2 separate regions of the Homo sapiens genome follow, and region 2 is reported to be linked to region 1. Evidence: microRNA targets listed by miRTarBase, many of them from high-throughput screens and not tested one by one. Region 1 holds a microRNA gene; the other region holds the end of a gene's coding sequence.
The links. The annotated mature microRNA hsa-miR-3944-3p reads UUCGGGCUGGCCUGCUGCUCCGG and lies in region 1 at 1,018-1,040, opposite strand. An mRNA with a match to its seed (bases 2 to 7 or 8) in the 3' UTR can be bound and repressed. Matches are read on the target gene's strand: a 7mer-m8 pairs with bases 2 to 8, a 7mer-A1 pairs with bases 2 to 7 and ends in A, and an 8mer does both.

Region 2: the mRNA of VPREB1 is a reported target of hsa-miR-3944-3p. Seed matches in the 3' UTR shown: 7mer-A1 at 360-366.

Annotation. Positions count from the first base shown.
Region 1 is chr10:133,370,562-133,373,709 of GRCh38, forward strand. It overlaps MIR3944 (microRNA 3944), which reads right to left and starts at 1,102; the gene lies at 995-1,102. It overlaps ECHS1 (enoyl-CoA hydratase, short chain 1), which reads right to left and starts at 2,793. Exons shown (of 8, transcript NM_004092.4): 1 at 2,685-2,793; 2 at 1-196. The coding sequence starts at 2,772. RefSeq lists a silencer at 2,556-3,065.
Region 2 is chr22:22,245,042-22,248,041 of GRCh38, forward strand. VPREB1 (V-set pre-B cell surrogate light chain 1) reads left to right here. Exons shown (of 2, transcript NM_007128.4): 2 at 1-474. The coding sequence ends at 296. It also overlaps IGL. Among named protein-coding and RNA genes, the nearest start is that of VPREB1, 1.8 kb to the left of the region's middle.

The DNA of each region.
Region 1 (3,148 bases):
GCAAAGGCCTTATCCCCGCCGGTGAGGACAATGGCCCCCACGGCCGGGTCCTCCTCGAAGGTCTTCAGGGCCTGGTTGAGCTCGTCAATCAGGCCATCGCAAAGTGCATTGAGGGCCTTGGGGCGGTTCAGTTGGATCAACCCCACGGTGTTATTCTTCCCTCTTTTTTCTGCGATGATGTACTCAAAGTTAGCACCTGGAGCAAGAAGGCAAAAAGGGGTATCTATTCACACAGGTATCAAACTGGGGAGAGTGGGGGAAGGGATGTGGCCCCATCGGTGGATACAGTGTGACCCCAAGAGGCCCTCTGAGGGCTCCCTGCCGAGTCCTCAGTGGCTCCAGGTGTAGCTCTCAGCCACAAGGATAGATGGTAGCCTTGGTACCATTCTCTCTGCTTTCACATGTGTTTGAACATGTCCTAAAGAAAATCCCCGGGCCGGGCGCGGTGGCTCACGCCTGTAATCCCAGCAATTTGGGAGGCCGAAGCGGTCGAATCACAAGGTCAGGAGATCGAGACCATCCTGGCTAACACGGTGAAACGCCGTCTCTACCTAAAATACAAAAAATTAGTCGGGTGTTGTGGCGGGCGCCTGTAGTCCCAGCTACTGGGGAGGCTGAGGCAGGAGAGTGGCATGAACCCAGGAGGTGGAGCTTGCAGTGAGCTGAGATCATGCCACTGCACTCCAGCCTGGGTGACAGAGTGAGACTCCGTCTCAAAAAAAAAGAAAAGAAAAAAAGAAAAATCCCCAGCACAGAACACAGCCCACAGCCGCTTTCCTTCTCCTAATATGCCTTGGTCAGCTCTTCCCAGGACACCACTCTGGAGACAGCCCTGGACTCTGCTGAGACAAGGCACCAGGAAACACCTTCTTTCAACAAATGCCAACAGGTGAGGGGGTGTAAGGCAGCTCCTTGCACTTGGTACCGCCCCAGTGCCAAGACCTCTGGCCAACTGGACGCAGGGTGGGGGATGTGAAAATCCTGGGTGTTCCTGCAGCATTAAGATCAGGCACAGGTCCGGAGCAGCAGGCCAGCCCGAAAATGGGAGACGCAGGCGCTTCTCGGTTGGCCTGCTGCACAGGACCTGCGCCTGCTGGGTGGACAGCAAGGTGGGAAGGAGACAAAGGACAATGGCGTTCCAGGGGTGAGAAGGTGAACCTGAAAAGACAAAGGTAGCCTGTGTGTTGGATGCTTGCCTCCGTTAGTGGCAGAGCAGGGATCATAGTCCCTGTGCTATGGGTTTCTTTTTTTTGGAGACCGAGTCTCACTCTATTGCCCAGGCTGGAGTGCAGTGGCGCAATCTTGGCTCACTGCGACCTCTGCCTACAGGGTTCAGGTGATTCTCCTGCCTCAGCCTCCCGAGTAGCTGGGACTACGGTCACACACCACCACACCTGGCTAATTTTTGTATTTTTAGTAGACATGGGGTTTCACCATGTTGGCCAAGGTGGTCTTGATGACCTCAGGTGATCCACCTGCCTCAGCCTCCCAAAGTGCTGGGATTATAGGCATTAGCCACTGTGCCCCGCCGTATCCTGTGGGTTTCTAGGGGTAACTGGAAGATCACAGGTGAAGTGTCTGGCAGCAGTGCCCGCCATGCAAGATCCAGGAAAGGGCTGCTGTCAGGGTGGAGAAGCCGAAGGCCAAGGAGAGCATGGAGATGAAACCAACACAACTCAGTGGTCCACTGCTACACAGGGTGAGGGAGGAAGAGGAAGCAAGAGTTCTTCCCCAGCCCAAGGCATGGCCCAAGATTCCTCAGATACTAGAGCCGGTGATGGCCGCTCATGAGTGGGGCCCCGGGTGAGCCACGAGGGAGGAAGAGGGCAGCCCCCTGTGGCTGGGGAGGAGGTGTCAGCTTTTCCCTTAGGACCCTCTGAGGGGTGGCCCTGGTCAGGAGGCACCCAGGACAAAATGCACCTGCATCTCCTGTTCTCGGGCTGGCCGGCTGCACAGGAGCTACGCCTGCTCTTAGAGCCGAGGGAACACCCCGGATTTTTACAACCCCCACCCTGCGCCCAGTTGGCCAGAGGTCTTGGCACTGGGGCAGTACCAGCCAGCCGCCGGGCCTCCCGCAGGACGTGGCCTGGTGAGAGTGGCCTCCTGCAGAGCCAGGCAGGGGGTGGGGGTGCGGGCCAGGGTCAGGTGGGTGGTGTCGGTGCGGGGTGGCGGGTGGTGGGGGGGTGTTAAGCCTGGGTCAGGCTGTGGGTGCGGGTCAGGTGGGGGGTGCAGCACTAGGCGAGGGGGGTGTTGCAGGCCTGAGCCAGGCAGGGGCTGCGGGTCGGGGTCAGGTGGTAGGTGCGGGGTCAGGCAGGAGAGTGCGGAGTCAGGCCCTGGGGATGCGGGATCGGACGGAAGAGGGGTGCGGGGTCAGGCCGGGGGGTGCGGGGTCAGGTGGGGGGGTGCGGGGTCAGGCGGAGTGGGGTGCGGGTAGGGGTCAGGCCGGAGGGTGCGGGGTCAGGTGGGGGGGTGCGGGGTCAGGCGGGGGGGTGCGGGGTCAGGCGGAGTGGGGTGCGGGTAGGGGTCAGGTGAGGGTGCGGGGTCAGGCGGAAGAGGGGTGTGGGTTGGGGTCAGGTGGGGGATGCGGGGTCAGGTGGGAGGGGGGTGCGGTCTGGGATCTGGTCTGGGCGTGCAGGTCGGAGTCAGGAGGAGATTCGGGCCGCCAGCTCTCACCGCGCACTCACCCGAGGCGAAGGGACGCCAGGCGGGACAGCGAACCGGGGGCCTCAGCGGGCCGCGGACGCAGGACAGCAGGACACGCAGGGCGGCCATGGCTCTCTGGACTCCTCGCCCGGCCCCGCGGAGCCGCCCCCTCGCCTATAGCCTTTCAGGGCTCGCTCCGCCCACAGGCCAGCGCCGCGAGACCAGGCGGCCCTCGCGAGATCAGCCCGGGCAGAGTGAGCGGGTCGCTCTCCGCCAGGCCCCGCCCCCAGGCCCGAGCTGCCGCTCGCGGATCTAAGGCCGAGGGGCGTCCCCGGGACCCCGCCCTGGGCTGGGACCAGCGCCCTCCAGGCCCCGCCGCAGTCGCCCGCGCCCCCGCCCCCGCCCCAGCCCTCGGGGTCCCAGCTGGCCCCGGGGAGACCGCGCGGAGGCGGAGGCAACGGCGGCGCCTGCCGGGCTCTGCGCCGCCTCCCCCCGCCCGCCTGCC
Region 2 (3,000 bases), not on the chromosome of region 1:
ACATCGGTGTGTACAGCGTCTACTGGTACCAGCAGAGGCCGGGCCACCCTCCCAGGTTCCTGCTGAGATATTTCTCACAATCAGACAAGAGCCAGGGCCCCCAGGTCCCCCCTCGCTTCTCTGGATCCAAAGATGTGGCCAGGAACAGGGGGTATTTGAGCATCTCTGAGCTGCAGCCTGAGGACGAGGCTATGTATTACTGTGCTATGGGGGCCCGCAGCTCGGAGAAGGAGGAGAGGGAGAGGGAGTGGGAGGAAGAAATGGAACCCACTGCAGCCAGGACACGTGTCCCTTGAACTGAAGACAGCAGAGGCACGCATCCCCTTGGAGAGACTGTCATGGAAGAGGGTGGAGTCGCCGCCCGAAGCGCCGAGGAGGCTGAGCCACTCAGCATCTCCTGGTCCTGCAGTGTTGCTGTAAATCCCCATTGGAGACTGCATTAGGGAATTAAAGCTGCTTGTCACTTTTTGCTGAGTTTGGTCTGACTGTTGTGCGACTTCGTAGTACCAGCCTTGGGCAAAGGCCCGGGGCCCCGGGAGACTGGCAGATCACTGTGGTGAGCACTCACCTGAGTCCTTACTTTTGTGGGCCATGGGAGGCAAGGGGTTGACCGAAGCACCCTGGAGGGGCATCCATGCCCAGGACAGGACCCTCTGGTGTCATCTGATTCTGCCCAGCGGTTACAGGGCAAACAAGCTTAGAAAGCACCTGGTCTGGGCCTCCAGGGAGAACAGGAGCCAGGTAATAGGCCTAGAGTGGGTTCTCCACCTTGGTCCTATCGACGTTTTGGGCTGGACAGTTCTTGGTTGTGGGGCTGTCCTGCGGATTGTTGAATGGTGAGTGGTTATCTGTGGCCTCTACCCACCAGATGCCCCTTCCCAGTTGTGACAAACAAAAATGTCTCCAGACATTGCCAAATGTCCCCAGGTGGTAAACTCACACTGATTGTGAACCACTGGTCTAGATGAGCAAGTAAATGCATTTACTTATTTGTACAAGAGAGTGGCAGGTGTCGGCAAACATGTTCTTTTTTTCCTTTTTTTAGGGATAAAGTCTTGCTCTGTGGTCCAGGCTGGAGTGCAGTGGTGCAATCATAGCTCACCGCAGCTTCAAACTCCCAGGCTCAAGTGATTGTCCTGTCTCAGCCTCCTGAGCAGCTGAGACTACAGGCGTGCATCACCATGCTTGGCTATTTATTTAGTTTTATTTTTGGAGAGATGAATGTCTCACTATGTTGCTCAAGCTGATCTCAAACTCCTGAGCTCGAGTGATCCCCCTGCTTGGGCCTCCTAAAGTGCTGGGATTAGAGGCGTGAGCCACTGCACCCAGCCCATTTTCTATAAAGAGCCAGGTGGTAAATATTTTTGGCTTTGTGGGCTATGCGATCTCTGTCACAACTGTTCAATTCTGTCCTAGTAGCAAGAAAGCAGCCACAGACAAACATGTCAACAAAGAGGCATGGCTGTGTTCTTATAAAGCTGTATTTACAGAAACAGATGGGGCTACACTGGGCTGGGTATGGCGCCCAGGCTGTAGTTTGCTGAGCCCTGCTCGGGAGCACTCCAGCTCCTGTCTCCAGGTTTTAAGCAAGCCATGCTTGGTGGGATAATCAGAGTCCCCCCTCAACTTATCTTGCCTGTGACCCCAGGCAGAAGCCTCTGGACCCATGGAGATACCTAGAGGCATGAAGGACGTGGTCTCACTGAGACTGTGTTGGACTGTCTGGGTGAAGTAGCAATGGGGAGCTCCCTGCAGCCCCGGCCCACAGCAAGGCCCCCTGAGCCCGTGGGTGGTGGGTCTGAGTGTGCCTTGCGGAGAGGGACTCTCTACATTGGGTGTTCACACAACCTGTAGACATGCCTCACTCAGAGAGGTGCCGGGCAAACCATCTCCCTTGTAACCCCAACTTGCCTGGGAACGTGCATTCACCCCAGCTAAAAAGATCCTGAGGCATCTCCCCAGAGAGGTGGACACATGTCAGTATCAGCGTTCCATGTGTGGTCATGAGTCCCTCTCTTGTTAAACAGTGGTCTCCAGCACTTTGGGAGGCCGAGGCGGGTGGATCACCTGAGGTCAGGAGTTAGAGACCAGCCTACCCAACATGGTGAAATCTCATCTCTACTAAAAATACAAAAATTAGCTGGGTGTGTTGGCACATGCCCGTAATCCCAGCTACTTGGGAGGCTGAGGCAGGAGAATTGCTTGAACCCAGGAGGCAGAGGTTGCAGTGAGCCGAGATCATGCCACTGCACTCCAGCCTGGGTGACAGAGCGAGACTCCATCTCACAAAAAAAAAAAAAAAAAAAAAAAGAGACAGTGATCTCAGCTTATGCCATACTCTATGCACTGGGTTCTTCCTGCATCAGGCTTTTACCCCTGGGCCAGGCCCACATTTTAAAACATTATTATTTACTTGTTTATTATTTTATTTTAGAGATAGGATCTTGCTATGCTGCCCAGGCTGGACTGCTGTGGCTATTCACAGGTTCAATTCATGATGCTCTACAGCCTTGAACTCCTGGGCTCCAGCGATCCTCCTGTCTCAGCCTGCTGAGTGGCTGAACTACACGTGTGAGTCACTGCACCTGGCCATGGCCCACAGTTTTAAAGACCAGCTAGATGGTTCCAGAGGAACTCTGTCTTCTGCTTGTAACCCGTCCCTCTCTTGCCTCCATCCTTCATGATTCTGGGATTCCATGCTATGAGAAGAGATCTAGAAAGCCGGGAGCTGAGTTGGACTCCTGTATCATCCTCATGCCCCCACCCCACCAGCTCAATGGAAAATGAGACCTGGAACTCAGGCTTGAGGCCAGACTGAGTGTGAGTCTTAGCTCTGGAGGAGTCACTTAAAATCTAAGCCAACATTTCCAATGTTGCATGTAAAGGGGATAATCATAGAACTGATTAACTTATATAAAAAGTTTTTATCTGGCCAGGCGTGGTGGCTCATGCCTGTAATCCCAGCACTTTGGGAGGCCGAGGCGGGCAGATCACCTAAGG